7 separate regions of the Homo sapiens genome follow, and regions 1, 2, 3, 5, 6 and 7 are each linked to region 4. Evidence: fine-mapped expression QTL. A gene starts in region 4. Each other region holds a variant in brackets. All regions are shown on one strand. Distances are from middle to middle.

What was found.
Region 1: its variant is fine-mapped to the expression of WDR6 in whole blood (TOPMed, PIP above 0.99).
Region 2: its variant is fine-mapped to the expression of WDR6 in whole blood (INTERVAL, PIP above 0.99).
Region 3: its variant is fine-mapped to the expression of WDR6 in whole blood (INTERVAL, PIP 0.95).
Region 5: its variant is fine-mapped to the expression of WDR6 in whole blood (INTERVAL, PIP above 0.99).
Region 6: its variant is fine-mapped to the expression of WDR6 in whole blood (INTERVAL, PIP above 0.99).
Region 7: its variant is fine-mapped to the expression of WDR6 in whole blood (TOPMed, PIP above 0.99).

What each region holds. Positions count from the first base shown.
Region 1 is chr3:48,923,335-48,927,541 of GRCh38, forward strand. It overlaps ARIH2 (ariadne RBR E3 ubiquitin protein ligase 2), which reads left to right. Exons shown (of 16, transcript NM_006321.4): 3 at 4,128-4,207. Among named protein-coding and RNA genes, the nearest start is that of ARIH2OS, 6.1 kb to the left of the region's middle. RefSeq lists enhancers at 825-1,325, 1,326-1,826, 3,600-3,659. The variant C/T (reference allele first, on the strand shown) is at 1,862.
Region 2 is chr3:49,399,858-49,404,064 of GRCh38, forward strand. The region is part of intron 1 of RHOA (ras homolog family member A); the gene reads right to left. Among named protein-coding and RNA genes, the nearest start is that of RHOA, 10 kb to the right of the region's middle. The variant T/C (reference allele first, on the strand shown) is at 2,392.
Region 3 is chr3:48,516,465-48,520,671 of GRCh38, forward strand. PFKFB4 (6-phosphofructo-2-kinase/fructose-2,6-biphosphatase 4) reads right to left here. Exons shown (of 14, transcript NM_004567.4): 14 at 1,220-3,342. The coding sequence ends at 3,283. Among named protein-coding and RNA genes, the nearest start is that of SHISA5, 14 kb to the left of the region's middle. The variant G/A (reference allele first, on the strand shown) is at 2,442.
Region 4 is chr3:49,005,470-49,009,676 of GRCh38, forward strand. It overlaps WDR6 (WD repeat domain 6), which reads left to right and starts at 1,922. Exons shown (of 6, transcript NM_018031.6): 1 at 1,922-2,062. The coding sequence starts at 1,963. P4HTM (prolyl 4-hydroxylase, transmembrane) reads left to right here. Exons shown (of 9, transcript NM_177939.3): 7 at 308-398; 8 at 595-718; 9 at 1,218-1,684. The coding sequence ends at 1,438. RefSeq lists an enhancer at 700-1,688 and silencers at 1,827-1,876, 2,417-2,596.
Region 5 is chr3:49,144,639-49,148,845 of GRCh38, forward strand. No RefSeq gene overlaps it. Among named protein-coding and RNA genes, the nearest start is that of LAMB2, 14 kb to the left of the region's middle. The variant A/AAAAAT (reference allele first, on the strand shown) is at 1,964.
Region 6 is chr3:49,997,305-50,001,511 of GRCh38, forward strand. RBM6 (RNA binding motif protein 6) reads left to right here. Exons shown (of 21, transcript NM_005777.3): 6 at 2,136-2,209. Among named protein-coding and RNA genes, the nearest start is that of RBM6, 59 kb to the left of the region's middle. The variant CT/C (reference allele first, on the strand shown) is at 1,733.
Region 7 is chr3:49,323,826-49,328,032 of GRCh38, forward strand. USP4 (ubiquitin specific peptidase 4) reads right to left here. Exons shown (of 22, transcript NM_003363.4): 3 at 3,861-3,991; 4 at 1,894-2,020; 5 at 1,069-1,214; 6 at 877-938. Among named protein-coding and RNA genes, the nearest start is that of USP4, 14 kb to the right of the region's middle. The variant A/G (reference allele first, on the strand shown) is at 1,806.

The DNA of each region.
Region 1 (4,207 bases), 82 kb before region 4:
GGTTGCAGTGAGCTGAGATCGTGCCACTGCATTCCAGCCAGGGTGACAGAGTGAGACTCTGTCTCAAAAAAAAAAAAAGGTCAGACTGCAAACATTATTTTTATTGCCCCACAATTAATAGGGTTTTTTTTTTAATTTTTAGAAATGGGAGCATTTATAGTTAACATATCAACTTAGATATAGTGAGTGTTTTTTTTTTTTTTTAAGATAGAGTTTCCCTCTTGTTGCCCAGGTTGGAGTGTAATGATGCAATCTTGTCTCACTGCAGTCTTTGCCTCCGGGGTTCAATCCATTCTCCTGCTTCAACCTCCTGAGTAGCTGGGATTACAGGCATGTGCCACCACGCCCAGCTAATTTTGTGTTTTTAGTAGAGACGGGGTTTCTCCATGTTGGTCAGGCTGGCCTTGAACCCCCGACCTTAGGTGATCCACCCGCCTCGGCCTCCCAAAGTGCTGGGATTACAGGTGTGAGCCACCGCGCCTCGCCAATATTTTTATTATATAAAAATGTGACTGTAGGCTGGGCACAGTGGCTCTTGCCTATAATCCCAGCGTTTTGTAAGGCCAACGCAGGAGGATCGCTTGAGGCCAGGAGTTTGAAACCAGCCTGAGCAACATAGTAAAACCCTGTTTATACAAAAAATAAAATTAGGTATGGGGGTGGCATATGCCTGTAGTCCCAGTTACTCAGGAGGCTGAGGCAGGAGGATCTGTTGAGCTCAGGAGTTGGAAGCTGCAGTGGGCCATGATCATGTTTTTATATCTCAGACTGGGTGACAGAGTGATACTATGTCTCAGTACTCCATAGTCTTTTAGACTGGTTACAAATTCTTTTTCCTTTTGGTAGACGTGAGTGTCACTATGTTACCCAGGCTGGTTTGGAACTCCTGGTTTTGAATGATCCTCCAGCCTCAGCCTCCCAAAGTGTGGGGATTATGATACAGGCGTGAGCCACTGATACAGATGTGAGCCACTGTACGTGGGCCTTTTTTTTTTAAGTAGAAGATTATTTACCTGAATTATTATTATTATTATTATTATTTTTGGAGACAGAATCTCTCTGTTGCCTAGGCTGGAGTGCAGTGGCACGATCTCACTGCAGCCTTGACCTTCCAGGCCCAAGCAGTTCTTCGATGTAGCCAGGACTACAGACGCATGACCGCTATGCCTGTCTTATTTTATTTATTTGTTTATTTTTTGTGTGTGTGACAGTGTCTCACTCTTGCCCAGGTTGGAGTGCAGTGGCATGATCTTGGCTCACTGCAACCTCCTCCCTGGTTCAAGTGATTCTCCTGCCTCAGCCTCCCAAGTAGCTGGGATTGCAAGTGTGCACCACCCTGCCAAGCTAATTTATTTTTTATTTTTTATTTTTTTATTTTTTCAGATTGAGTCTCGCTCTGTTGCCCAGGCTGGAGTGCAGTGGTGCAATCTCTGCTCACTGCAACCTCCGTCTCCCGAGTTCAAGCAGTTCTCCTGCCTCAGCCTCCTGAGTAGCTGGGATTACAGGTGCATGCCATCATGCCTAGCTAATTTTTGTATTGTTAGTAGAGATGGGGTTTCACGTGTTAGCCAGGATGGTCTGGATCTCCTGACCTCGTGATCTGCCTGCCTCGGCCTCCCAAAGTGCTGGGATTACAGGTGTGAGCCACTGCGCCCAGCCTAATTTTTGTATTTTTAGTAGAGATGGGATTTTGCCATGTTGGCTAGGCTGGCCTCAATCTCCTGGCCTCAGGTGATCTGGCCACCTTGGTCTCCCAAAGTGCCGGGATTTTTTTTCTTTTTTTCTTTTTTTTTTTTTGAGACGGAGTCTCGCTCTGTCGCCCAGCCTGGAGTGCAGTGGCGCGATCTCGGCTCACTGCAAG[C/T]TCCGCCTCCCGGGTTCACACCATTCTCCTGCCTCAGCCTCCCCAGTAGTTGGGACTGCAGGCGCCTGCCACTATGCCCGGCTAATTTTTTGTATTTTTAGTAGAGACGGGGTTTCACCATGTTAGCCAGGATGGTCTCGATCTCCCGACCTCGTGATCCACCTGCCTCGGCCTCCCAAAGTGCTGGGATTACAGGCATGAGCCACCGCGCCCAGCTGATTTCTTTTTTTTTTTTTTTAAATGTGTTGTAGAGACATGGTCTCACTAGGTTGTTCAGGTGGATCTTGACCTCCTGGCCTCAAGGGATCCTCTCATCTCAGCCTTCCAAAGTTCTGGGATTATAGTTGTGAGCCACACCCTCAGTCTTTGTTTTAGATTATGGTTGGTTGTTTTTTTTCAGACAGATTACCTACTTCAAGTAGACTTTATATTTGCTTTTGTATTTAATCAAGATTTGTTTATATAAATTGTTTATGTACTGTTAAATCCAAATGCTCTTACACTTTAAGGTTCTATTAGTTTTAGATTTTTTTTTTTTTTTTGAGATGGAGTCTCACTCTGTTGCCAGGCTGCAGTACAGTGGCGGGATCTCGGCTCACTGCAACCTCCGACTCCCTCGTTCAAGTGATTCTCCTGCCTCAGCCACCTGAGTAGCTGGGGATTACACGCACGCACCACCACGTATAGCTAATTTTTGTATTTTTAGTAGAGATGGGGTTTCACCACGTTGGCCAGGATGCTCTTGATCTCCTGACCTCGTGATCCACCCGCCTTGGCTTCCCAAAGTGCTGGGATTACAGGCGTGAGCCACCGCACCTGGCCTAGTTTTAGATTTAAATCGCTAGTTGATATTGTTCCTTTCAGCTCATCAGTTGAAATGGTAGTTGTGTAGAAAAGTTAATGGGTGTTTGCCACAATCTTCTGTGAGTTGAAGTTAGGGTTTGTGACTGTTTCACTTTCTCAACTAGTATTCTCTTTTCGTTTATATGTAATTAAGTAACATTTCGCTGTTTGCGGGCTTTTCTTTTTTGAGATGGAGTTTCCCTCGTGTGTGTGTGTGTGTGTGTGTGTATGTGTGTACGTGTGTGTGTGACGGAGTTTCGCTTTTATTGCCCAGGCTGGAGTGCAGTGGCGCAATCTCAGCTCACTATAACCTCCGCCTCCTGGGTTCAAGCGTTTCTCCTGTCTTAGCCTCCCAAGTAGCTGGGATTACAGGTGCCTGTCACCACGCCTGCTTAATTTTTTTGTATTTTTAGTAGAGACAGGGTTTCACCATATTAGCCAGGCTGGTCTCGAACTCCTGACCTCAGGTGACCCACCCATCTCAGCCTCTCAAAATTCTGGGATTACAGGCGTGAGCCACCGCACCCGGCCAATGGAGTTTCACTCTTGTCATCCAGGCTAGAGTGCAGTGGCGCAATCTTGGCTCACTGTAAACTCTGCCTCCCGGGTTAAAGTGATTCTCCTGCCTCAGCGTCCCGAGTAGCTGGGATTACAGGTGCATATCACCACACCTGGCTAATTTTGTATTTTTAGTAGAGATGGGGTTTCGCCATGTTGGCCAGTCTGGTCTTGAACTCCTGACCTCAAGTGATCCACCCACCTTAGCCTCCCACAGTGCTGGGATTACAGGCATGAGTCACCACACCCGGCCAGTAGAACTCTTTAAACCTGAAAAATCAGTCAACTTTGCAGACTAGAGGAGGATGTTGAACACCTATGTGTGTTTTTTTTTTCTTTACCAACTATGCACCTATTTTTCAGACACCTAAAAGTAATGTCTGTGAAACAGTGGTTTTCTTTTTCTACATATTACAGCAGGAAGTGTTCCTATTTATGTACTGTCTGTATCAATACTAACGGGGCATGATAAGCAAAATTTTAAACTTTGGTAGTTAAACCTTTATGTTGCCTCCCCTCTGGGCTGCCAGCTGTGGGGATGTGCTTCTCCCTTAAGGACTTTGGCAAGAATAACAAGTTCATTGGAATTTGACTTTCTGACATAGAGCAGACAGCCTTGCCCTGTCATGCCAGGCCTTTCATGTGAAGTTACCATTTATTAGCTGCTTCTGTCTCTCCAGGGAAGGATTTCCCTTTTATAAGCCTGGGCCAGGGGGATGATAGTAAGATTCCCCATGTGATACCAGAGTTGGAATAGGCTGTAGTGAGATTAGGGCCAGGACTGTCCCATTTTGATTCTTGAATGGTTTCTGTTACAACTTGTCATGGGGAAAAAGTAACACTTATTTTTTTTTTCCTCCCTTAGAAGACAAAAATACTAATGCATTTGAGAAAGCGGTAGTTTTGGGGGGAGGGGGAAAAAGCAACTGCTTTCCTGATCTGCAA
Region 2 (4,207 bases), 390 kb after region 4:
ATTACATCAAGGGGGTAAGAAATAAAGCAATACATATGCAAAAATCCATCTTGGAATCTGAACTCAAGAAACTACAGAAACGGCTGGGCACGGTGGCTCACGCCTGTAATCCCAGCACGTTGGGAGGCCGAGGTGGGCGAATCAGGAGTTCGAGACCAGCCTGACCAACAAGGTGAAACCCGTCTCTACTAAAAATACAAAAAAATTAGCTGGGCATGGTGGCACGTGCTTGTAATCCCAGCTACTCGGGAGGCTGAGGCAGGAGAATCGCTTGAACCCGGGAGGCGGAGCTTGCAGTGAGCCGAGACCGCGCCACTGCACTCCAGCCTGGGTGACAGAGCGAGACTCCATCTCAAAAAAAAAAAAAAACAAAAAAAACGAAACTACAGAAGCATACTGCCCCCCTCTCCCCCAACATCTTCCCTAGTCTAACCAAAACTGGCCACCCCCCACCACCTCCTGTTTCTATAAGGAGATAAAACAAGATTATCTGTGTTCAGGCCAAGGGTTGATTCCCACTACTCATAACATTTCCCCTAAACCTCATTTTAAAGGCCAAGAGTTACACCCTCACCACCAGAGGCCTCAGTGGCTTCCTGGCTACTCTAAATTCTTCTTTATCCCTGAACTCCTACAGCACTTCGTCTTTCAGTGCTGTTTCATGCCTATGTGAGCTTGAATCACTGAATACTTTGTTCTGGTACAGAGAAGACTGTATCAGGACTTGGTGCCATGCGTCTGTAATCCTAGCTACTCAGGAGGCTGAGGTAGCTGGATCCCTTGAGCCCAGGAGTTCAAGGCTGCAGTGAGCTATGATCATGCCACTGCACTCCAGCCTGGGTGACAGAGCAAGATTGTAGCCAAAAAGGTGAGGTGGGGGGATGGTATATAAAAGGGTTAATTTCCAGCCGGGCACGGTGGCTCACGCCTGTAATTCCAGCACTTTGGGAGGCCGAGGCGGGCGGATCACGAGGTCAGGAGATCAAGACCATCCTGGCTAACACGGTGAAATCCCGTCTCTACTAAAAATACAAAAAAATTAGCCGGGCATAGTGGCGGGCGCCTGTAGTCCCAGCTATTCGGGAGGCTGAGGCAGGAGAATGGCGTGAACCCGGGAGGCAGAACTTGCAGTGAGCTGAGATTGCACCACTGCACTCCAGCCTGGGCGACAGAGACTCCGTCTCAAAAAAAAAAAAAAAAAAAAGAGTTAATTTCCTACCTTTTAGAAAGGAAACTTTCAAAAGCCCAAATTACTAATATTAGACACTAGGGCCTTCAAATTTACTTCCTCTAAGTTACTACCCTTCTTTTCTGAATTGACCTTAGGAAGTTACTTCTTTCCAAACAAGACCTACAAGTAACAACGCATAGTATGTAAAACTCCTGACCAGGTGTGGTGGCTCACAACTGCAATCCCAGCACTTTGGGAGGCAGGAGGACTGCTTGAAGCCAAGAGGTGGAGACCAGTCTGGGCAATACAGTGAGACCTCATCTCTCAAAAAAATATGAAAACGGACAGGCAAGGTAGCTTATGCCTATAATCCCAGCACTTTGGGAGGCCATGGCGGATGGATCACTTGAGCCCAAGAGTTTGACACCAGCCTGGGCAACATGGCGAAACCTCTGGGAGGCAAAGGTTGCAGTGAGTGGAGATCGGGCCACTGCACTCCAGCCTGGGCGACAAGAATGAAACTCTGTCTCAAAAAAAAAAAAAAAAAATTGGGGAAATGAAGTTGAAAACATAGAGCTGTTTATTTTGTTTACTGACTGCATGGGAAATTCCTGATGAAAGGGCCAAACTACCATCCATCCATCTGTCCATAATGAACTTGAGCCTGGTATAGGTTGAGTACTGCTTATCCAAAATGCTTGGGCCCAGAAGTGTTTCAGATTTCAGAATTTCTTCAGATTTTGGAATATCTGCATTATACTTACTGGTTCAGTATCCCAAATCCAAAAATTGAAAGTCTGAAAGGCACCACTAGGCATTTCCTTTGAATGTCATGCCAGCGCCCATCTTGAAGCATTTCAGATGCTCAACCTGTACTGCCATTATTTGGCCATCCTGATCAAGTGGCTGCCAAGCTCTTAGTTCAAGAGCTTTCCTTTCTGTAGCAGTAAGGGCACTTGGAGATCAAGAGCAGCAGGAATAAGGCACATGGTGGTAAGCAATGAAGAAAACCTTCAATTTACTGCCAAGTGAAAATCACTTCAAACTCAAGTTCTTTGGGGAAAGACAGGCAAGGAACAATCCCTGAGGTAACATACCGTCAAGTTTCCTAAATAAGAGCATGAAATCATTTATCTCAAAATGTAAATATTATAAGGTTAACCTTCAATGGATGCACAGAATCAGGATTTGACTTTGTTTGGCCTAATTCCAAACTTACA[T/C]TGCCTCTAAGACAATGCGTATCTAGTAAAACTGACAAAGAAAAATGAACCATTAGGTACCTCCCAGTGAGCTGGCTAAGAATTTATATATGCTTATTGTAAACCTTATTGCAGGAGTTTACTTTTACCAAGTATATATATTTCTTAAAATAAAAAACTAGGCCGGGTGCAGTGGTTCACACCTATAATCCCACCACTTTGCGAGGCCAGAGCTCAGGAGTTAGAGACCAGCCTGGACAACATGGCAAAACGTCATCTCTATAAAAATTAAATTAATTAACTAGGTATGGTGGTGCTTGCCTGTAGTCCCAGATGCTCATGAGGCTGAGGCAGGAGTATTACTTGGGCACAAGAGTTAGAGGCTGCAGTGAGCCACGATAGCACCACTGCACTCCAGCCTGGGAAACAGATCAAGACTCTGTCTCAAAAACAAACCAAAACTTGTCATATTCTAGGAAGCCAAGCAAATAAAACGAATGAACAAAAAAACTAGTCTAAAAAACTTTAGGCCAGGAGCAGTGGCTCACACCTGTAATTCCAGCACTTTGGGAGACCGAGGCAGGAGGATCACAAGGTCAGGCCTTTGAGACCAGCCTGGCCAACATGGCGAAACCCCGTATCCACTAAAAACACAAAAAATTAGCCGGGCGTGGTGGCGGGTGCCTGTAGTTCCAGCTACTCGGGAGGCTGAAGCAGAAGAATCGCTTGAACCCGAGAGGCGGAGGTTGCAGTGAGTTGAGATCGTGCCACTGCACTGCAGCCTGGGCAACAGAGCGAGATTCCATCTCATAAAAAAAAAAAAAAAGAAACCCGCCGAGCGCGGTGGCTCACGCCTGTAATCCCAACACTTTGGGAAGCAGAGGCAGGCGGATCACAAGATCAGATCGAGACCATCCTGGCTAACAGAGTGAAACCCCATCTCTACTAAAAATACAAAAAGTTAGCTGGGTGTGGTGGCACGCACCTGTAGTCCCAGCTACTCAGGAGGCTGAGGCAGGGGAATCACTTGAACCCGGGAGGCAGAGGCTGCAGTGAGCCAAGATTGCGGCACTGCACTCCTAGATGACAGAATAAGACTCCGTCTCAAAAATAAAAATAAAAATTTAAAGCCTTGAGGAAATGCTCTTTAACTCGACTGAGTGGCAATTACTTGGGTATACACATTCATCAAAATTTATCAAACTGGCGGTTTGTGGTGGCTCATGCCTATAATCCCAGGGCTTTGTGAGGTTGAGACGAGAGAATCACTTAAGGCCAGGAGTTCAAGACCAGTCTGAGCACATAGTGAGACCCCTCTCTCTACAAAAAAAAAAATTACAAAATAAAAATGTAGCCAGGCGTGGTGGTGCACACCTGCAGTCCCAGCTACTCGGGAGGCTAAAGCAGAGAATTCTTGGGCCTAGGAGGTCGAGGATGTAGTAAGCCATGATTCCGACACTGCACTTCAGCTGGGTGACAGAACAAGGCCCTATGTCTAAAAAAAATAAGAACAAAAAAATTATCAAACTATCATTTAAAGTATGTGCATTTTATTGTATGCAAATTAAACCTCCATGAAGGTAATTAAACCTCAGGTGATTCCAATTTGGGGAACTGGATTCCAAGTTTGGGAACAGTGGAGTCTAGGAACCACTGTTCTTAAGTACCAGGAACCAAGTAGTAAGCCCTGTTTTATTCCAAGAAATCTTAGGGTGCTACTCCCACTACCCTCCCACCACCCCCGAAAAAAGGTACTACAAACTGTAACCTGAATAGTGAAAGTTGAAGATAGCTGGACTCAGTGGCTCATGCCCGTACTTGCAGCACTTTGGGAGTC
Region 3 (4,207 bases), 490 kb before region 4:
AAACCTTCTTCCAAAAGTGCTGAGAAGCCTCAAAGGGAGTCAGGTGTCCACCCTAGGAACTCAGAGCCAAGAGACAGGTGAGGACCCCCGAAGCTGTCCCCCAGGCTCTCACCAGGCAGAGGTTAGTCACCACCTGAATCCTGCAAAGTTGCCTCTCCCTCAGACACCTTGGCATAGTTGGAGAAGGCAGAAACATAGCTGCTGGCCACCCCAAACCACCCAGAAGCAGCCCAGCGACAGCCATCCTCTGCCCTGACACACTGGGAGGAGCACAGGCGAACACCCGGCAATGCCCTGCCCCATCTTGCCCACAGAGGAGCCCCGCCTACAACCCACTTCCCGGAAAGCCAGCTCCAGGGCAGGAAGTATGGACAGCCCATGATGTTCTGAGGCATGGGAAAGAGAACACCCAGCCCCTTGTCTCCACCTTCCCGACCCCAGATGCAGGTGACAAAGACAATACCAGAATAGGCCGGGTGCAGTGGTTCACGCCTGTAATCCCAGCACTTTGGGAGGCCAAGGCGGGTGCATCACCTAAGGTTGGGAGTTCAAGACAAGCCTGACCAACATGGAAAAACCCTGTCTCCACTAAAAATATAAAAACTAGCTGGGTATGATGGTGCATGCCTGTAATCCCAGCTGCTCGGGGAGGCTGAGGCAGGAGAATTGCTTGAACCCGAGGCGGAGGTCGTGGTGAGCCAAGATCGTGCCATTGCACTCCAGCCTGGCCAACAAGAGTGAAACTCCGTCTCCAAAAAATAAAAATAAAAAAAGAAAAAGAAAATACCAAAACACTGGTCAGCATACTGTCACCACAGCCTCACGCAGCCACTACATCCTTGACCCAGCTCCCGGGGCCTCCTCCCCAAGAATGCCGCATTTGGAGCCCACATTCCCAGGGACCCCAGAATCCTTCCCTTAACAGTGCTCCACTCCAGCTGCACTGCCCCCTCCACATCTGCCTCATGTTCAGGGCCAAGGGCCCCATACCCCAGGTCAGCCCAGGGAAGACCCAGGCCGCCTGCCCATGTATGCCAGGCCAGGACTCACTCCAGGGCAGCATAATTCCTCTTCAGTGAGAGTGAACATGGGGGTGGAAGCTGAACGAAGGATCCCAACACAGACCTGCGAGGAAGACCACAGCACCAGGTGTCGACAGAGCAGGCCAGAAAAAAAACACTTCAGAAATGGAGAACTGGCTACCAAATACAACCTGAGATTATTTTTTAAAAAGTATTTATTGCAAAGAATGCTGGACACAGTGTTGCATGTGGCTGAGATTCAATACCATCCATTCTGGGGAACTCGGGAAAATATCTGCAACATGGGCACGCCAGCCAGCATGGCCGAAATGTGGCAGCCAATCAGCTACACCTCAGCCCATGCGGAGACCATGCCAGGGCAGAGGCCGGGGGGTTGCCCCCACTCATGCCCTGATCCCTGGATGTCCCTCTACCCTGTCCCCAGTCCTCGTAATGCATCCAGTCCAGCAACTCCTAACTCCCCTCTGTACACAGAGAGAAAAGGCCTCGGTGGTCTCACCTCAGATGACATCCAGAGGTACATGCACTGTTGCTGACCAAGGGAACCCACTATGGCTAACAAATGAGTGTGTCCAGGTGACAAAAGTCACCAAAACTCCAAAATACACAGAAGCAAAGGCTGCAGTCCTAATGTCCCAAAGGCATGGTCCTTGGGCTCTGGGTCTAAAGGGCTTGGGGCTCTGACAGATGAGTCTGGAAGGATCTTGCCCCGGCTCCGCCTTGGACATCTCTTAGCAGAGCAGCACACAAGGATGAGAGACCACCGGCCAGGGCCAGGGACGCTAACTTCTCTCAGGGACAGGTGGCATCTGCAGGCTGCAAAGCCCTGGGAGGCTGGAAAGATGTGCTACCCTCCAGGCACAGGCCAGGAAAGGCTCCGGACACAAAGGACTTGGGATCCAGGGGCCTGGCTTCCCCAGAGTCCACCTGTGGACAGCAGGGCACCCGATTACAAGTCCAGACACTTTCTGACCCAGCCCCACAACTTGCCAGCCAGTCTGTTTGCCAGCTGTAAACAGACTGCCCAGGCTGCCTCTCTGGGACCAAAAGAACTCAGGGGCATGACAGACACTGGACTTCACAAGGCCATTTTCACCAGACTCACGTGCACATGAATGGAAGGCTGTGCTGCGGCCGGGAAAATCCTCCCTTGCCCAGGGACTGCCTATGGGTTCTGCCTTCTCCCTTCCTCAGACCCACAGGCAGAAGTCAACAAACACCAGAGAAGTTTTACAGGACCATACAAGTGTTTCTGAATTATTTATGGCAAATGCATGTTTCTGCCACCAGTGTACATTCCTGTGTGGACACGGGCAGCAACAGGGGAGAGGCCGCCTCCCCATTGGCTGCCAGTGTCCACAGCCAGGGAAGGGGAGAGGGGGCGGCAGCCTCTCCCTC[G/A]AGCACTTCGGTGTGTGCACCAGGAAGGTAACTTCCTGCCCTGTCTTGAAGTGGTTTCACTGTGAGAGCAGGCCTGAAGGGGCACCCCTGGCCACCAGCTCCCCTAAGCATACCTAAGTAGCCGGGTACATGCACAACTGGGGAGGGGCGACCACAACTGCCCCCCTGCCCTCACGTTTCTGTGCATCCCAATGTGCTGAAGCAAGCGCATTGCTTTCATGAATGCCCACAACTAAGGGTGACATGGATACAACGGCCTGGCCAGTGGCTGCCCAGGAAGCATCTGCTGTGGTTGGGGCTCTAGTTCCTGGTGGGTAAGGATGGGAAGGGCTCTCCCTCTCACCAGAGGCAGCAGAAGCTCAGGGCCCCATGAAGACCTGGCCTCTGGCTCAGGAAGTGGCCACAGAGAGGATGGTAGAGGCCCTGTGGAGAGTCACCAGGTCCATGCTGGGCAGCTGGGCCACAGTAGGAACATCACAGCAAGCACTTTCCTTTCACATTGTAGGGTTTCACACTTCACAAAGCCAACTGAGCTGGCGAGAGTGAACACCTAAGAGCTGCGCCGGAAGAAACTGGGGCTGGGCAACCTCCGCGCAGCCCATGCAGATGCAGTCTGGTCAAGTGACTCTTAGCAGCAGGTCAGGAGCCACGCACAACCTTGTCGCCGACTGTCAACAAAGAGCCAGGTGGGCTGGGGTGGGGGCTCTGGGTTCCGCCAGCCATGTGTGGCTTCAAGAATATCCCTGCATGGCATGGTGACTATCACACACACTGGAGGGCCTGGAATGACCCCCTCTGCAGAGAGCAGTGCCTGCCTAGTGGTCACAGTGGATGAACATGGTCACTGGTGAGCAGGCACCGTGACAAGGGCTTCCTCTGGAGGTCTTGAGATGTCCACGTTCTGTACAATAAAAACACAGAGCGTTCACTCCATGGCAGGAATAGATGAGATGCCTGCTGTCTGCCGTCCTCATCACTGTGGTTCATCAGGCTTCACATTCTCACTGTAGCAGCCACAGCCGCAAGACTCTAGACCACAAGCTTCCCTAAGAATACATGGCCAAGAGCTTCGTGCCACATAGCGGGTGGATGGACAATAGAACAAAGGTGCGGTGGAGGATGCCACCTCGTTTCCTGCTCCACTGCAGCCAGGTCAGGCAATACCCAAAGCAAGGCCACTCCCACCTCCTATCTCAGGGCTGAGTCAATTGAGGAGGAACCCCTGGCTTGGGGATTTTATCCTCATCTGTGGGGCAGGGAAGGGGTTCAACTCCTGGGGGTGCCTCCTTCCTAGTTTAAAGTGTTGGCACGCAGGTGTCAGAGGTGCCCCAGAAGCCTATGGGCATTTCCTGGTCTGCAGCCTGGTCTGTCCCCTCAGAACTGGGGTACAGGGCCTCCTGAAGCCCTCAGCTATAGAAGGACCCCACCAAACTGCAGAGCTCAGTCCCATCCTTGGCCTGTCGGGCTCAGGGAGTCTCAGGCCTGAGGAATAGGGAATCTGAAACTTCCCTTAGCTCTCTGAGGCTGTCTTATGTGCCCCAGAGCCTGGTGGCCCCTCCTCCCAGCTGTGGGCCCCGGAACCATCACCTGCAGGAGCAGGTCACTGATGACCTGAGCTGCTGCCCCATGCAACATGACATGCCCAGATCTTCAGGGAGAGAGACATGGCCCCCATGGCCCACAGCCTGGGCTCATAGGACCGGCCCCTGGAATTGTAGGGGCAGGTATAATTCTTACTGCTGGGCAGGCTTCCTGAGGCGCCCCTT
Region 4 (4,207 bases):
GCCCTTCAGCGCGCCCTGTTGCTTCTGCTAGCCTACCTTTCCCTGCCAGGCCCTTGCTCAGGGCCATGGCATTTAACTAAGTGCACCTGTGATCTTGGCCAAAAAACCATTGCAACTCACAGTAAGAGACTGGGTTTCGGGGAAGGAGGGGCTAGGGACATTTTGGCACTGGCCTGCCCTATTGTCTCCCATCCTAGTCTGTCCTGGTCCCTGGCAACAGGAACCTGGGCAGCTTATCCTGCCCACAGGTAAGCCCCTGGGAGCATCCACAACTGGGGACCTGCTCAGTGCCCCCCCTGCCTTACAGCTACATGACAGTGCTGTTTTATTTGAACAACGTCACTGGTGGGGGCGAGACTGTTTTCCCTGTAGCAGATAACAGAACCTACGATGAAATGGTAAGGGTCAACTGGGCTATTACTCTTGTGGGCTGGCAGGGGCTTAGACAAGTGAAGTACACACCTCTCCAGGTCTAAGGATGTGGGCCCAAATTATTCCTTGGGCATATCTGGTTGGTTTCCCTTTGGTCACCCTTGGCTGGCCTGGCCATAGAGTGGGGACAGGTTGAACACCCCACCACCCTGCTGCCCACAGAGTCTGATTCAGGATGACGTGGACCTCCGTGACACACGGAGGCACTGTGACAAGGGAAACCTGCGTGTCAAGCCCCAACAGGGCACAGCAGTCTTCTGGTACAACTACCTGCCTGATGGGCAAGGTGAGGGCCTATGGCCAGGCCTGGGGGGGGTGCCCTGAGTACAGCTTCCCTTTACCCAGCCCCCGTCTGCCACAATGGAGGGCTGTTTCTGGCTGCTTTCCAAATAGTTTTCTGCTCCTGGTGCCTCCCAAAGGCCATCCTTAGTGACTTTAGCAGACTGCCCCAGGACCTGTACTGCTTATTGGGTTATATCCATCCCTATCATTCCCTGATGCCCCAGCCTTCCTACTCCCTGGGGCTTGGGACACATGTCCCTTGCTAACCCAGGATGGGAAGGGATATGGACAGGCCCAACAGCAAGAAAGCTGGTTTCAGAGGGCCAGTAGTGTTGACTATACATTAGTGGGCTGAGATGAGGAGCCTCCAAGGAAGCTTTAGGTCTGGGTGTTTGCTACACAAGGAATGCATAGCTGGACCCACCTTGGTCATGCTCTTGGTGCCTATGAGGCCAAGCTCTGGCCAGCCCAGCCTAGGATCTCACGTCACCCTCCTCTTCTAGGTTGGGTGGGTGACGTAGACGACTACTCGCTGCACGGGGGCTGCCTGGTCACGCGCGGCACCAAGTGGATTGCCAACAACTGGATTAATGTGGACCCCAGCCGAGCGCGGCAAGCGCTGTTCCAACAGGAGATGGCCCGCCTTGCCCGAGAAGGGGGCACCGACTCACAGCCCGAGTGGGCTCTGGACCGGGCCTACCGCGATGCGCGCGTGGAACTCTGAGGGAAGAGTTAGCCCCGGTTCCCAGCCGCGGGTCGCCAGTTGCCCAAGATCAGGGGTCCGGCTGTCCTTCTGTCCTGCTGCAGACTAAAGGTCTGGCCAATGTCTTGCCCCACCCCGCCAGCCGCGATACGGCGCAGTTCCTATATTCATGTTATTTATTGTGTACTGACTCCATCTGCCCCGTCAAATAAAAAACCACAAGGTTCGAGCCGCCGGGCCCGACAAACTCCGGGTCGGCGAAACAGAGTCCGCGATAGGTGCAGCGGGCTGGCAGCTGGGAGCGCCCCGCAAGCGTCACGTGAGGGGGCGAGGGGCGGGATGCCCCTCCGCGGGCCCCGCCAATGATGAGCTGGATTGCGTGGGACGAAGGGTCGTCATTGGACAACCGCCGCGGGCGCCCTGGTCTCTGCTACCTGTAGCTGAGGGCGCTGTTGATGGGCAGCGCGGCGCGCTGGGAAGGCTCGTTCTCGCGAGAGTTCAGCTCCCTTCTTAGCCGTGGCTGCCTCAGCACCTCGAGGATCGACATGGACGCTCTCGAGGACTACGTTTGGCCGCGGGCAACCTCGGAGCTTATACTCCTCCCAGTGACGGGTCTGGAGTGCGTGGGGGACCGGCTGTTGGCGGGTGAGGCTTGGCTTGAGGCACGCCTGGTGGAAAGGGGGAAAGAAACAGCGCCTCCCAGGGGCGGTGCCACAGGGACAAAAGGGGTGCCCTGAGGAGAAGGACGGGCAGCAGGTTGAGGCCGATCGGAGGTGGGAAGGGAGCCCCGGAGATGGCGGGGACGAGGGCCAACCTGAAGAGGGCGGGGCCCGAGAGACAAAGCTGATGTGGCCGCCGCGGCGCTTCATAAACTTCAGCCCGCGTGGAAAGGGCGGGTGGAACCGCGGGAGGGTGCAGGGGAACGCGGCCGCGCGGAGGCGGAGGCGGAGGCCCGGGAGCTGAGGGTTGAGGGGGTGTGCTCCCTTCTAGGAGATGGGCGGGGGCTTGGCCTCTCCGAAGGAGACGGGGCCGAGCTGGGGGGGGCGGAGGGAGGAGGAGGAGGAGGAGGCGGAGGCGGCCCCGGCCCCTCAGGGGGTGTGGCCTCTTGGGGAAGGCGGGGCCGGGAGAGGGCAAGGGTGTGGCCTCTCGAGGGCGGGATGAGTCTCTTCCCCCTAAGGTGGGGGTGAAGATCCTCTGAGGAGGGTGGCGTCGCGGAAAACGGCGGATAAGACCTTTCCGAGTAGGGGGCGGTGCCCGGGGAAGCAGGGGCTGAGACCCCCTCCTGAGATGGTTGAGGTCCAGGAAATCAGGTGTGGAGGTCCCTCCAAGGAGAACCGGGTCGCAAAGGACAGGCGAGGCCTGGGACCTGAGGTGTCAGAGTCCAGGCTGGTCTCGAACAGTCATTACATGAAGCCACTAATGACCCATGTTGGTGCTGCTGAGTTGTATAAGGGTCCTGAGGCAGGGCCTTGGCGGTCAGGCCTTGAGTGAGTTGCCACCAGTCCTAAGAGGGTGTGTGTATGGGGTGGGGATGATCCAGTTTTGATCTGGTGTGGGGGTTCTTGGAGCGCGGAGTTCCTACCGCGAGCTAAACTCCTAAGGCTCCTTGAGGGGGAACAACGAAGCAGAAACTCAAAGAACCACAAGAGTGAACTAGGAAAAGGGGTGAGTTCCTGGCAAGAGGGTAAGCATGCCAAAGGCCTTGAGGCTGGAAGAATCTGTCATTTTGGGGGAAGGAGGGAATTCTTGTGAAGTTAGAGCAGGAATGGAGTCTGGGAGGAAAGGAAGCTGGACAAGCGAGCAGAGGCCACATTGTTTCAGGCCTTGATCTGACTTTATCCCTAAGGGCAGTGGGGAGAACCTATTGAAGGGTTTTAAGGTGGGGAATAACTTGGGAAATGCAGTTTAAGAAGCTCTGCAAGTGAATTCACCTACTTCTGTGGCTTCCAAAGTGACTTTTATATAGCTACAATTCTGTGTGTGTGTGTTTTTTGTTTGTTTGTTTGTTTGTTTTTGAGACAGTCTTCCTCTGTCACCCAGGCTGGAGTGCAGTGGCACGGTCTCGGCTCCCTGCAACCTCCGCCTCCCAGGTTCAAGTGATTCTCCTGCCTCAGCCTCCGGAGTAGCTGGGATTACAGGTGCCCACCACCATGCCCAGCTAATTGTTGTATTTTTAGTAGAGATGGGGCCTCACCATGTTGGCCAGGCTGGTCTCAAACTCCTGACCTCAAGTGATTCGCCTGCCTCAGCCCCCCAAATTGCTGGAATTATAGGCATGAGCCACCATACCCGGCCTCTCTAGCCTCTTCCTGAGCTCTTCATTTCCTGTTCCATCCACCATACTCAATGCTCTTGCCCATCTCAGGGCAATCATACATGCTGTTTTCTCCACCAAGAAAGCTGCAAACCCTCCCATTGCTCCCCACCCCCCCCCCCCCGCCCCAACATTTCCCAGTCCCCCTCTTCCGCCTCCTTTCCTCTGGCTAACTGCTGCTTATCCTTGAATCCTAACTCTAAATATTGTGTCCTCAAGTTGGCCTCCCCTTACACTCACCCAGTCTTGTTAGATTAGACCAGGGTTTTCTCAATCTTGCCTCGATTGACCTTTTAGACCAGATAATTCTTTGTTGGAATGCTGTTTGTGCATTGTAGGATGTTTAGCATCATCCCTGGCCTTACTTGCCAGTAGCACAACCCCTGGAGACAGCCGTACGTGTCTCCAGCTATTGCTAGATGTCTCCTGTGGGGAAAGTTGCCCCCTGTGGAGAACCACTGGATTAGACTTTCTCA
Region 5 (4,207 bases), 140 kb after region 4:
CACATAGCAGGCCCCACTCAGTGCTCAGTGAACCTTGCAGATGGCACACATGCTGGCAGAGGAAGGGAAAGATTAGATGAACCTCATGGTGCTCCTGCAACCCCTACCCTGAAGCCACTTCAAGCCTGGCACATACACTCACTGAGGCCCATCCCCATGGAGCAGAGCTGAGATGCTGCAGAACAGGCAGGCACAGGCTTCAGGCATCGTGCTGGAGAGGCCTGGCCTTGCTGCCTCCATGAGCCTGCCTGGTGGAACTCCTGTAAATGCCTGAGGCCCCAGGGTACAAAGACCCCAGCCCAGGCAACGTGTTCACCCATGGCAGGTGCACAAGCTAGCAAGAGGGTCAAGGGAAGCCAGCAAGAGGCAATCAGCCCCACTCATTAACACTTACTTGCCACCTTTCTTGGATTGGCCCTCATCCAAGGGGGACATCCCTACCCCCACCCCTCAGCCCCCCTTCTGTTTCCTAATCTCTCTCTTTTTTTTTTTTTTTTTTTTGAGACAGAGTTTTGCTCTAGTTGTCCAGGCTGGAGTGTAATGCTGTGATCTTGGCTCACTGTAACCTCTACCTCCCAGGTTCAAGCAATTCTCCTGCCTCAGCCTCCCAAGTATCTGGGACTACAGGTGCATGCTACCATACCTGGCTAATTTTTTTTTTTTTTTTTTGGTAGAGGTGGGGTTTCGCCATGTTAGCCAGGATGGCCTCAATCTCCTGACCTTGTGATCCGCCCAACTCGGCCTCCCAAAGTGCTGGGATTACAGACACCCGCCACCACGCCCAGCTAATTTTTGTATTTTTAGTACAGACGGGGTTTCACCATGTTCACCAGGCTTCTCTCAAACTTTTGACCTCAGGTGATCCCACCTCGGCCTCCCAAAGTGCTGGGATTACAGGCGTGAGCCACCATGCCCGGCCCCTTGAACCCCTAATCTGTTTTGAGTCAATTTTTCCTCCATCTCCAGTGGCCCCAATCTAGTAGAGAGAATGCCATCTCTCACTCAGAATCATTTCGGGAGCTTGCATCTGGGCCTTCCACCAAACAATAAATTCTCCCCACATCTCTTCCCTGCTTAAATCTCTTCCATGGTTCCCCACTTCCCCTGGGATAAAGGTTAAGCCCCTCTCCTGGCCCAAAAGGTCCTATGAGATCTGGCACTTGCCTATTCTTATCTTCTGTCTTTTGCATGAGCTGTTTCCCCTGCCTGGGCTCCTCTGCCTACACTCTCCATCTATGTAGGTCTTAATCCTCTTGCTGCAACTCCAGGCCTCTATGATCCCCTGCCTCCCAGCCTCACTGCACCAATCCTGTCTTGCTATAATTTATGTCTCAGAGACTGGGCGCAGTGGTTCACGCCTGTAATCTCAGCACTTTGGGAGGGCGAGGCAGGTGGATCACCTGAGGTCAGGAATTCAACACCAGTCTGGCCAACATGGTGAAATCCCGTCTCTACTAAAAATACAAAAAAAAATTAGCTGGGCATGGTGGCAGGCGCCTATAATCCCGGCTACTCCAAAGGCTGCAGCAGAAGAATCGCTTGAACCCAGGAGGCAGAGGTTGCAGTGAGCCGAGATCGTGCCATTGCACTACAGCCTGGGCAACAAGAGCGAAACTCTGTCTCAAAATAAATAAGTAAATAAACAAACAAAGAGGCCGGGTGCAGGTGGCTCATGCCTGTAATCCCAGGACTTTGGGAGGCCGAGGCGTGCAGATCACCTGAGGTCAGGAGTTCAAGACCAGCCTGGCCAATGTGGTGAGACCCTCTCTCTACTAAAAACACAAAAATAAAATAAAATAAAATAAAACAAAACTAGCCAGACAAGGTGGCCAGCACCTGTGATCCCAGCTACTGAGGAGGCTGAGGCAAGAGAATCGCTTGAACCTGGGAGGCAGAGGTTGCAGTGAGTCAACATTGTGCCACTGTACTCCAACCTGGGTGACAAGAGCAAAACTCCATCTCA[A/AAAAAT]AAAATAAAATAAAATAAAATAAAATAAAATAAAATAAAATAAAATAAAATAGGCCAGGCGTGGTGGCTCACGCCTGTAATCCCAGCACTTTGGGAAGCCGAGGCGGGTGGATCATGAGGTCAGGAGATCGAGACCATCCTGGCTAACACGGTGAAACCCCATCTCTACTAAAAATACAAAAACAAAAAATTAGCTGGGCGCAGTGGCAGGCACCTGTAGTCCCAGCTACTTGGGAGGCTGAGGAAGGAGAATGGTGTGAACGTGGGAGGCGGAGCTTGCAGTGAGCCAAGATAGCGCCACTGCACTCCAGCCTGGGTGACAGAGCAAGACTCCATCTCAAAAAATAATAATAATAATAAAATAAAATAAAATAAAAAAATAAAATTGGCCAGGCACAGTGGCTCATGCCTGTAATCCCAGCACTTTTGGAGGCCGAGGTGGGCGGACCATGAGATCAGGAGATGGAGATCATCCTGGCTAACACAGTCAAACCCCGTCTCTACTAAAAATACAAAAAAATTAGCCAAGCATGGTGGCGGGCGCCTGTAGTCCCAGCTACTACTCAGGAGGCTGAGGCAGGAGAATGGCATGAACCCAGGAAGCGGAGCTTGCAGTGAGCCAAGATTGCGCCACTGCACTCCAGCCTGGGCAACAGAGTGAGACTCCATCTCAAAAAAATTAAAATAAATAAAATAAAATTTATGTCTCTGAGCCAGGCGCAGTGGCTCACACCTATAATCCCAGCACTTTGGGAGGCCAAGGTGGTCAGATCACCTGAGGTCAGGAGTTCGTGACCAGCCTGGCCAATATGGTGAAACCCCAACTCTACTAAAAATACAAAAATTAGCCGGGTAGCCAGGTGCGGTGGCTCAAGCCTGTAATCCCAGCATTTTGGGAGGCCGAGTTGGGCGGATCACAAGGTCAGGAGATTGAGACCATCCTGGCTAACATGGTGAAACCCCACCTCTACTAAAAAAAAAAAAAAAAAAAAAATTAGCCAGGTATGGTAGCATGCGCCTGTAGTCCCAGCTACTCAGGAGGCTGAGGCAGGAGAATCGCTAGAACCTGGGAGGCAGAGGTTGCAGTGAGCAGAGATCACATCACTGCACTCCAGCCTGGGCAACAAGAGAGAAACTCCATCTCAAAAAATAAATAAATATATAAAAAAATTTTAAAAAGGCCAGGCGCAGTGGCTCACACCTGTAATCCTAGCACTTTGGGAAGCCGAGGCGGGCGGATCACGAGGTCAGGAGATCGAGACCATCCCGGCTAACACAGTGAAACCCCGTCTCTACTAAAAATACAAAAAATTAGCCAGGCATGGTGGCGGGCGCCTGTAGTCCCAGCCACTCGGGAAGCTGAGGCAGGAGAATGGCGTGAACCCAGGAGGCGGAGCTTGCAGTGAGCCGAGACAGCGCCACTGCACTCAGGCCTGGGCAAAAGAGTAAGACTCCGTCTCAAAAAAAAAAAAAAAAAAAAATTAGCCGGGTGTGGCAGTGGGCACCTGTAATCCCAGCTACTCAGGAAGCTGAGGCAGAACTGCTTGAACCTGGGAGGCGGAGGTTGCAGTGAGCTAAGATTGCTCCATTGCACTCCAGCCTGGGTGACAAGAACGAGACTCCCTCTCAAAAAAAAAAAAAAAAAATTATGTCTCTGCCAGATGTAGGGTGCAGCCCCTAGGACATCACTGAATGCAGATGGATGAAGCTTCCCTCAGTCCTCCACACTCCCTCTTGGTCTGCCATAGCCTGTGTCGTGGAGTAGCAGCATGTTCCTGGATCAAAGCAGAAAGTCTGTATAGAACCACAACCCTGCAGTGAATGGGGAGAGGAGAAGAGGTGAGGTGATGCTGCAATGATCATGTGGTCCCAGAGATGCCTCCATGCTTCCTTCCTTCCTTCCTTCTTTCCTTCCTTCCTTCCTTCGTTCCTTCCTTCCTTCCTCCCTCCCTCCGTCCTTTCTTTCTTTCCTTTTTCTTCTTCTTTTTTTTTGATGGAGGCTCGCTCTGTCGTCCAGTCTGGAGTGCAGTGGCGCGATCTCGGCTCAGTCCCACCTCAGCCTCCCGAGTAGCTGGGAGTACAGGTGTGTGCCACCACGCCAGGCTAATTTTTGTATTTTTAGTAGAAATGGGGTTTCGGCCGGGTGCGGTGGTTCATGCCTGTAATCCCAGCACTTTGGGAGGCTGAGGCGGGACAATCACAATGTCAAGAGATCGAGACCATCCTGGCCAACATAGTGAAACC
Region 6 (4,207 bases), 990 kb after region 4:
AGTATTGCAGGGTTGATGTCTAGAAATGCTATATTAGATGCTCATAATGTTTTCTGTATCTTTTTCTTCCCAATGTCTACTTGTCCTTTAGCAAAGTATGAACGTTGTCATGAATCTTTTCTCTCTGTCCACAGATTCTGTGTGCTCCTCTGGGCCACAGTAGTTACTTCTTTAAGCACAGAAAGGAAACTTAGGGCTTTGCCAGTTTTAGTATTAGTTCTCTATGTTTTTCATCCGGGCAGCTATGGAGAGGGTTGCTTTCCACACACCTGGGTACTCCATTGATATGTTCTGTAGAGGTAATCAACACACTAGAGAGTACACCTGTTTGTTCCATGGCTAACCCTTTCTGATTGTAGACATGCATTTGAGTGTTTGCAGTGGATATTTGGTGCTAACAGGTGTCTTAGTTCCTTCTGTTATTCTGTAATGTTTCCCAAGAATATTCAGAGCTGTTTATAAAATGCAGAGTGATTTATGTATTAGGTGTTCAATGAGTTTGATCAAGAAGATTCACTTGAAAGGAATTAACTAACAAAGCAGTTTCCATTGTTAATAGGATATGCATGCTGTTTCTCTAAAGTATTTTTATTTCTTCAAAGAGTTATTAAGCAGAGGAGACTGATTTTGTGGTAAGTTTGGAGGGGTTAGTTTTAATCCACGTTGGTCAAAACTAAAAGTAGATTAGAAAATCTATTTCTCATCCTACAGTAGTGCTGAGGTTTCTAGTAGATTGTTTTTCTTCTTCCTAGTCATTTTCTGAAACTCAAAACAAGAATCAACCTATACCATTGTAATGTTTCACAGTTAACTTGGAGTATTTAACAAGTCTAAAATCAAAGTTTATTGTTATTAGTAAAACATTTTGAAGCCATTCATTTCATGTGACAAGGAATCTTATTTCACCAAATGTGGTATGTTTTTAAACTTATACTTTCTATTGTTCTAGTTTTGTTGATCTTTGATATTGATGCAGTGATATCAGTTTCCTATTGTTATATATACTTTGTGGTCAAAATTATCATAGGGTTTTGTGTTTTTCTTTGCCTGAGTTTTGCTTCTCATCTGAACATCACATCTTTTTCTTGCGGTTCCATTTACACAGTGTGATTCCTAGAGATGAGCTTCTTTATCCTCTGAGGCAGTGGAGGAAGCATGGAAGCCACTTGGGGAGCACTGCATTGACAAGTGTATTTTTGTAGTCACATGGTGGCAGTGTCAGGGAAATTATAGGACTGGTTAGATTCTAGTTCAGCAACCTATAAATCCCAGGACTTCCCAGTCTCGTGAGTCATACAACTCTCAGGCCTGTGCTGCAAATGACACTTGCTTAGGAGTAAGGTGAAGGGTATTTTATAGCTCTAATGGTTTGTACAGTTCTTAAACATGTATTGATTGCTAACAACTGCTGTCTTTCTCCCAGCTTGCCCCACCACCAGTCTTTGTGCATAAGCACAATTTTGGACATAGTTATTTGTACTTATTTATGCTTTTACACCTTCTTCCTTTTATAAAGATTTTAGCTGGTTTATGACTTGAGTTGAAACAAGGAAAAAAAGAGGAGACCTGAAATGGTCTGTCCCCTGCCAACCAGAAGCCTCCTGTGGTATCCAAACAGAATAGTTGCCTCAGTCTGTCAGCACTTCTGTCTTTGAAGGTGGTTTCTGCTTGAAAAGTGGTGACTATTAGCATAGCCTGGGGATAATTGCTTTTTTTTCTTCTCTCGGGATAC[CT/C]TTTTTTTTTTTTTTTTCCAGATACTTTCTTGCTCTTGTCGACTTTGTTTTTCCAGAAGATTTAGCCTGTGGTTAAAATGTTTCGGGTCCCCACGTGAACTCTCTGTGGGATTACCCAATTCTGGGGTACCTTCACCAGATCACCAGTGCTAAAGAGGGCAAAGGATCTTCTTGGTTAATAGAAAAGGCTGTTTTGGAATGAATCTCAAAGTCCAGAAACATCGAGACTTTTCTTCAATACTTTTTTCTATTTGGGGTAGCAACTTTACCTAGTGTAGGGGAGGGAGGGGTTAGTTGGGAGGGCTTGTGTTTAAGGGGTTCAGAAACAGGGGATTTAAGTGTGTCTTTTGTGTTTGCAAGGCACTAACACCACTCCCGTCTGTATTTAAATGCTGTCCCCAGGTTACGACTATGGCTATGTCTGCGTGGAGTTTTCACTCTTGGAAGATGCCATCGGATGCATGGAGGCCAACCAGGTTGCTTTATACTTCGGTCAAATGATGCTGGAAGGATATATTTTTTTATATATGGGGAGGGAGGGTTTCAAATGATTTTACTTTGGAAAGGTACAAGAAGTCTATCTGTGGAGCATACTGTATTCCAACCATCGGTTGTGAGGAAAATCTTTAAAAAGGCTGGAAAGCTTTCTCTACAAAACTTAATGGGCACAGAGTGCATTTTAAAAGCTAGAGCCCAGTTGCTTTTGGACTAGATTCCAAAGACAATAGTTGGAAAAAAAAAAAAAAGACACATCTGGAGTGTTTCCTTTTGGAGTGTGACTGAGATGGTAATCCTGATGCAAAGAATGATCCTTGATTGTCTGTGACCCCAAGGATCTGCCTAGCACAGAAATTCTAGGTCAATAGTTACACCCAGACCTAGGGTGAAGACCTCTGATGGTGACTTCTGTGGCATCAGATCCTGCCTGCAGGGGCTACTTCCAAAAGAGAGCTATCAGGGAAGAGAGAGGAGTGGATTGTTGGTGTCTATTGCATTCATCATTGTTTTTTGCCAATTGGAGTTGCATACTCAAGTCCTTGGCTGCGTATAGTCAGAGCTGGTGAATCAGAATCTGTACTCACCTTACGTTTGAACTATCTGGAGTTACTCAGCTTGCCACCTAGATTTTTCATCTATGTCTTTAATAGAACCCTACCTGGTAGTTTTGAGAGGAATTAATAAATAGGTAGAATCCTTCTTGTTATGGTGCTTCCTTGGGGAAAGTTGTTTTCTTTGGGTTGTTTCAGTTCCTCCATCTGTAAAGTAGGAAAAGAAACTTAGGAATATAGTTTGATGTGTTTTTTTTTTCTTTTTTTTTTTTTTTAATGTACCCACTGCCTATACTTAACAGTGTGAATACAGTGGGCCCAGAATCTTTCTTTCTTTCTTTTTTTTTTTTTGAGACGGAGTTTTGCTCTTGTTGCCCAGGCTGGATTGCAATGGTGCGATCTCGGCTCACTGCTACCTCCACCTCCCTGGTTCAAGCGATTCTCCTGTCTCAGCCCCCTGAGTAGCTGGGATTACAGGCATGCGCCACCACGCCGGCTAATTTTGTATTTTTAGTAGAGATGGGGTTTCTCCATGTTGGTCAGGCTGCTCTCGAACTCCAGACCTCAGGTGATCTGCCTGCCTCGGCCTCCCAAAGTCCTGGGATTACAGGCATGAGCCACCGTGCCCAGCCAGGCCCAGAATCTTAAAAGAAGGCTCTGCCAGAGAAGAGTAGTTATTAGATGAGAACTCTTCTTCTTCTGTAGCCTGATGCTTTGTTCAGCTTTGTTTAACTCAGTGTGGCTCATTATACGTACTTTTCTCTTCTTGGCCAAGTTCTCCTCTTATGGGTATGGAGATGACATGCTCTAAATGCTTTGGGAGCAAGCACTCATTAGAGAAGACTTTTGATGTATCCTTATCTTGTTAGTAGTTTAAGCTTGTCAGATCCTTAAAGAATGACAGGCTTAGGACCATATCCCCTAGACTTAAGAGGATTCTCATTGACCATTTGTTCAGTGTCCATCACTGAATCACTTACCAAATACAGTTGACACTCTGTATCCACAGGTTCCACACCCATAGATTCAACCAAATGCTGATTGGACATATTCAGGAAAAAAATGCATTAACACTGCAACAATAAAAAATAATACAGGCCAGGAGTGGTGGCTTACTCTGTAATCCCAACATTTTGGGAGGCCCGGGTGGGAGGATTGCTTGAGGCCAGGAGTTTGAGACCAGCCTGGGCAACACAGGGAGACCCCATCTCTACAAAAAATAAAAGTGAAAAAATTAGCCAAGTGTGGTGGCTATCAACTTGGGAGGCTAAGATGAGAGGATTACTTGAGTCTGGATTGAGACTGCAGTGAGCTGTGATCACTCTGCTGCACTCTAGCCTGGGGTGACAGAGTGAGACCCCGTCTCAAAAAACAAAAAAGTACAGTTAACTATTTATATAGTCTTTATTAGGTATTAGATATAAG
Region 7 (4,207 bases), 320 kb after region 4:
CTTTATCTCCCTAAGAACATGCACAGTTCCACATACCACATGAACATCTCTTGAAACAGATGTGTCCTTAGTCCAAGTTTTGTAGCTGAACAATTCACCCAGCAAGCTCCCAGGGCAACAATGAGTAACAGGCCACTGGGCAGAAACAGGTAGAATCAAGCTATCACTTTTTTTTTGTTTTTGTTTTTTTTGGGTCAGAGTCTTGCACTGTCACCTAGGCTGGAGTATAATGGTGCGATCTCAGCTCACTGCAGCCTTCACCTCCTGGATTCAAGCGACTCTTGAGCCTCAGCCTCCCGAGTAGCTGAGATTACAGGTACCTGCCACCATGCCTAGCTAATTTTTGTATTTTTAGTAGAGACAGGGTTTTACCATGTTGACCAGGCTGGGCTCGAACTCCTGGCCTCAGGTGAGCCACCTCCCACGGCCTCTCAAAGTGCTGAGCTTACAGGCATGAGCCACCATGCTCAGGCCTCAACTATCACTTTTAAGTCATATAAAACCCCATGCCTTAGCCTTCCTCTTATCCATCAAGGCCTCTAACTACATGTGGAGAAAATAAAAGCGTGACAAAAACAAAGCAACCTCCTGGTAGAGCAGCAACCTTAGACTTGATCCCTCATATCCCTTCCTCCTTTTCTCATTCTCCACGAGCAGAGGCTCGCCACCTTGCTGAGATATCCTGACAGGCTTCCCTTAGATGCTGCCCTGCTACCAAAAGCCACGGTCTTCATCCAGAAGCATGAACTCTGGATATACAAAATAGGCATTGTTCATCTGAATCAGAACAATTTTTCTTAGTACAAGTACTGCCTTAGGAAAGACTGTCTCTTTTGCACATGTGAGCCTACAACAAGGGAGAAAAAATTCACTTACTTTGACTGCAAGGTCTGCCTGGGCCATGTGCCATCTTCATTTTGAGGCTCAATTACTAGCACCTGAGTGAAAGGGGAAACCAAATGAGGAGAGTTCAAACCACCGCACTTCCAACATGCTTAGAAGCAAAAAGTATCTGGCCACACACCCTGGGCAGAGCTACCTGCTGGGGAATGGCCAGGGCCCTCCTACCTGACCCTGGTATAGCCCAGCATCCTGGACAGTGTTGTCTAGCTTGCTCAACTGCTCGTAGGTGTTGCTCATGTATTTGTTCCAGAGCCGTGTTTCACGCTCCGCAGGGATGTTGAATAGCTTCCGCATCTCTTTCTCGATGGTTGCTAGGAACAGGCAGAAATATCACTTGGGGCTTTGTCCACATGCAAGGCTAAAGACAGCCATGGCAAACTAATGCTCATCCTCTTTCTTGTCAGATGCTCACAGGTGCTCTGGATCAACCCCCTGATACCTCTTAAAATCAATCATCTCCCATGGGTGGCCTCTTGCACTCATATGCCTGGAAAGTATCCCTATGCTTCTTTGCTAACGTGTGTCTCTCATTTATGGCGCAAAAGCAACATAGAAAGCGAGAAAGCTTATCTTTGGAGTTAACTCAGATATGGCTTCAAAAGCTAGCTCCACCATTTTCTGGCTGCGATTTGTTTTTTTTTTTAAGAGACAGGATCTTGCTCTGATGCCCAGGCTGCAGTGCAGTGGTGGGATCGTAGCTCACTGTAAACCTTGCTGAGATTTTTAAATAAGTTATTTTTAAACTTCTTTGGATCTACATTTCCTTATCTTCATTATCATAGACAAATGGGCAAGGAGCAGGCCCAGTGTTCTCTCCATAAGAATTCCTGGAGGAATAGGCCCCCAGGTCAGGACTGGCAACTACAGCTCGAGATGATTTGGGTAACAAATCTAAAGAGGGC[A/G]TATAAAATAATGCCCTCTTCCCTCCCATCAGCCACAATGTCCTACACTCTCTCACCACATACCAGGGACCCCAGCCCAGCCTCTCACCAATGGTGTCTGCCTTGCTGAAATGGCAACTCAGCACATTGGTGGGGTCACTGTTCTCACAGAGCTTCAGTTCCAGCAAATACACCTCGACTTTGCAGTGCTTGACAAACAGGCCATGCTCCACAACCTATGAACAAGAGGCAGGGGTGAGGGCATAGCGGTTTTGCAGCTGGGCAGTCTTGGATGTAGCATATCTTATCAGAAGCAAAAAGCAGAAAACTCATGATAATCCATTTCCTTTACTGATCAAGGGATCAAAAGAACAGATTTTTAAAGCTACCAGTACCTGGACAAAGAGTTTAAAAATATTTTTTCTGGCCGCGTGTGGTGGCTCACGCTTGTAATCTCAACACTCTGGGAGGCCGAGGTGGGTGGATCACTTGAGGTCAGGAATTTGAGACCAGCCTGACCAACATGGTGAAACCCCATTTCTATGAAAAATACAAAAATTAGCCGGGCATGGTGGCATGTGCCTGTAATCCCAACTACTCAGGAGGCTGAGACAGGGGAATCGCTTGAACCCAGGAGGTGGAGGCTGCAGTGAGCCAAGATCGCTCCACTGCACTCCAGCCTGGGCGACAGAGCGAGACTCTGTACCCCGCAAAAAAATATATATATATTTTTTTTCTACCCACTAAGACCAAGAGCATCTTGATGATATTAGAGAGAAGCCTATTCTTCACTGTTTTTTGTTTTTGAGATGGAGTCTTCCTCCGTCAGCAGCCTGGAGTGCAGTGGTGCGATCTCAGCTCATTACAACCTGCACCTCCTGGGTTCAAGAGATTCTCCTGCCTCAGCCTCCCGAGTAGCTGGGACTACAGGGGCCCACCATCATGCCCAGCTAATTTTTGTATTTTTAGTAGAGACAGGATTTCACCATGTTGGCCAGGATGGTCTCGATCTCTTAACCTCGTGATCCGCCTGCCTCAGCCTCCCAAAGTGCTGGGATTACAGGCGTGAGCCACCATGCACGGCCTGATCAAAGACTCTTTTTTTTTTTTTGCAACCGAGTCTCACTCTGTTGCCAGGCTGCAGTACAGTGGGGTGATCTCGGCTTACTGCAACCTCCGTCTCCTGGGTTCAAGCAATTCTCCTGCCTCAGCCTCCCGAGTAGCTGGGACTACAGGTATGTGCCACCACACCCAGTTAATTTTTGGATTTTTAGCAGAGACGAGGTTTCACCATGTTGGCCAGGGTGGTCTTGATCTCCTGACCTCGTGATCCACCCGCCTCAACCTCCCAAAGTGCTGGGATTACAGATGTGAGCCACTGCGCCTAGCTCAAAGACTCTTAAGCATAGAGGGAAAAGCAGTATCATAAAGGTTTTTTAAGATAAACAAGATGCAGGACATTAGCTATATGTCCATATGCCCCCAGTGAACTTTCTCTCATAGAATTTTCCAGAAAGTTCTCTCACAGCGCTGCTGGGCACATTCCAAGCCACTGGGCAGCTCTGATGTTTAGAGGCCACTCATGATAATATTCTGGGTGAGCAACTTCACTCACAACCACAATTTCCTAAAGAGAACCAGAAACAGGCTGGGCGTAGTGGCTCACGCCTGTAATCCCACCACTTTGGGGGGCCGAGTCGGGCGGATCACAAGGTCAAGAGTTTGAGACCAGACTGGCCAACATGGCGAAACCCCGTCTCTACTAAAAATACAAAAATTGGCCAGGCGTAGTGAAAGGCGCCTGTAATCCCAGCTACTCAGGAGGCTGAGGCACGAGAATCACTTGAACCTGGGAGCCAGAGGCTGCAGTGAGCCGAGATCGTGCCGTTGCACTCCAGCCTGGGCGACAAGTGCACAAGACTCCATCTCAAAAAAAAAAGAGATCCAGAAACAAGGCCTCAAGCACCACTATTCAACCACTGAGGTATGTTCATTTTCCTAGCAAACACTAGTCAGTGTCCAACAGAAAGCACCTGCAGACAGTGACCAGCAGGTGGGACAATTCACATAACTCACTTTTCTGACGATGGGTTGCTGGCCTTCTACACAGCCGTACCAGTTTAGTAGTTTATTCCACGCCTCGGTAGGGACCAATACATAGTCCAATTCATCAATTAAGTGTTCTTTCAAGGTCTGACTCTCAGGATCTAAAAAAGGAAAAGAGCACATAAGTCACTGCTCTTTACCCCAGAAATGATGGTTTTACATGATTTCCATGTACTTTTCAGAAATAAGAAAATTATTTACAGAAAGAAACAGGAATGAAATTCCAAAATTCTGTCACTGGTCATTATACAGAGCAGACTTTTGTCTTTATCCATGTTTTCTCTTTATCCATGAAGATTTTATGAGGAATTTGTATT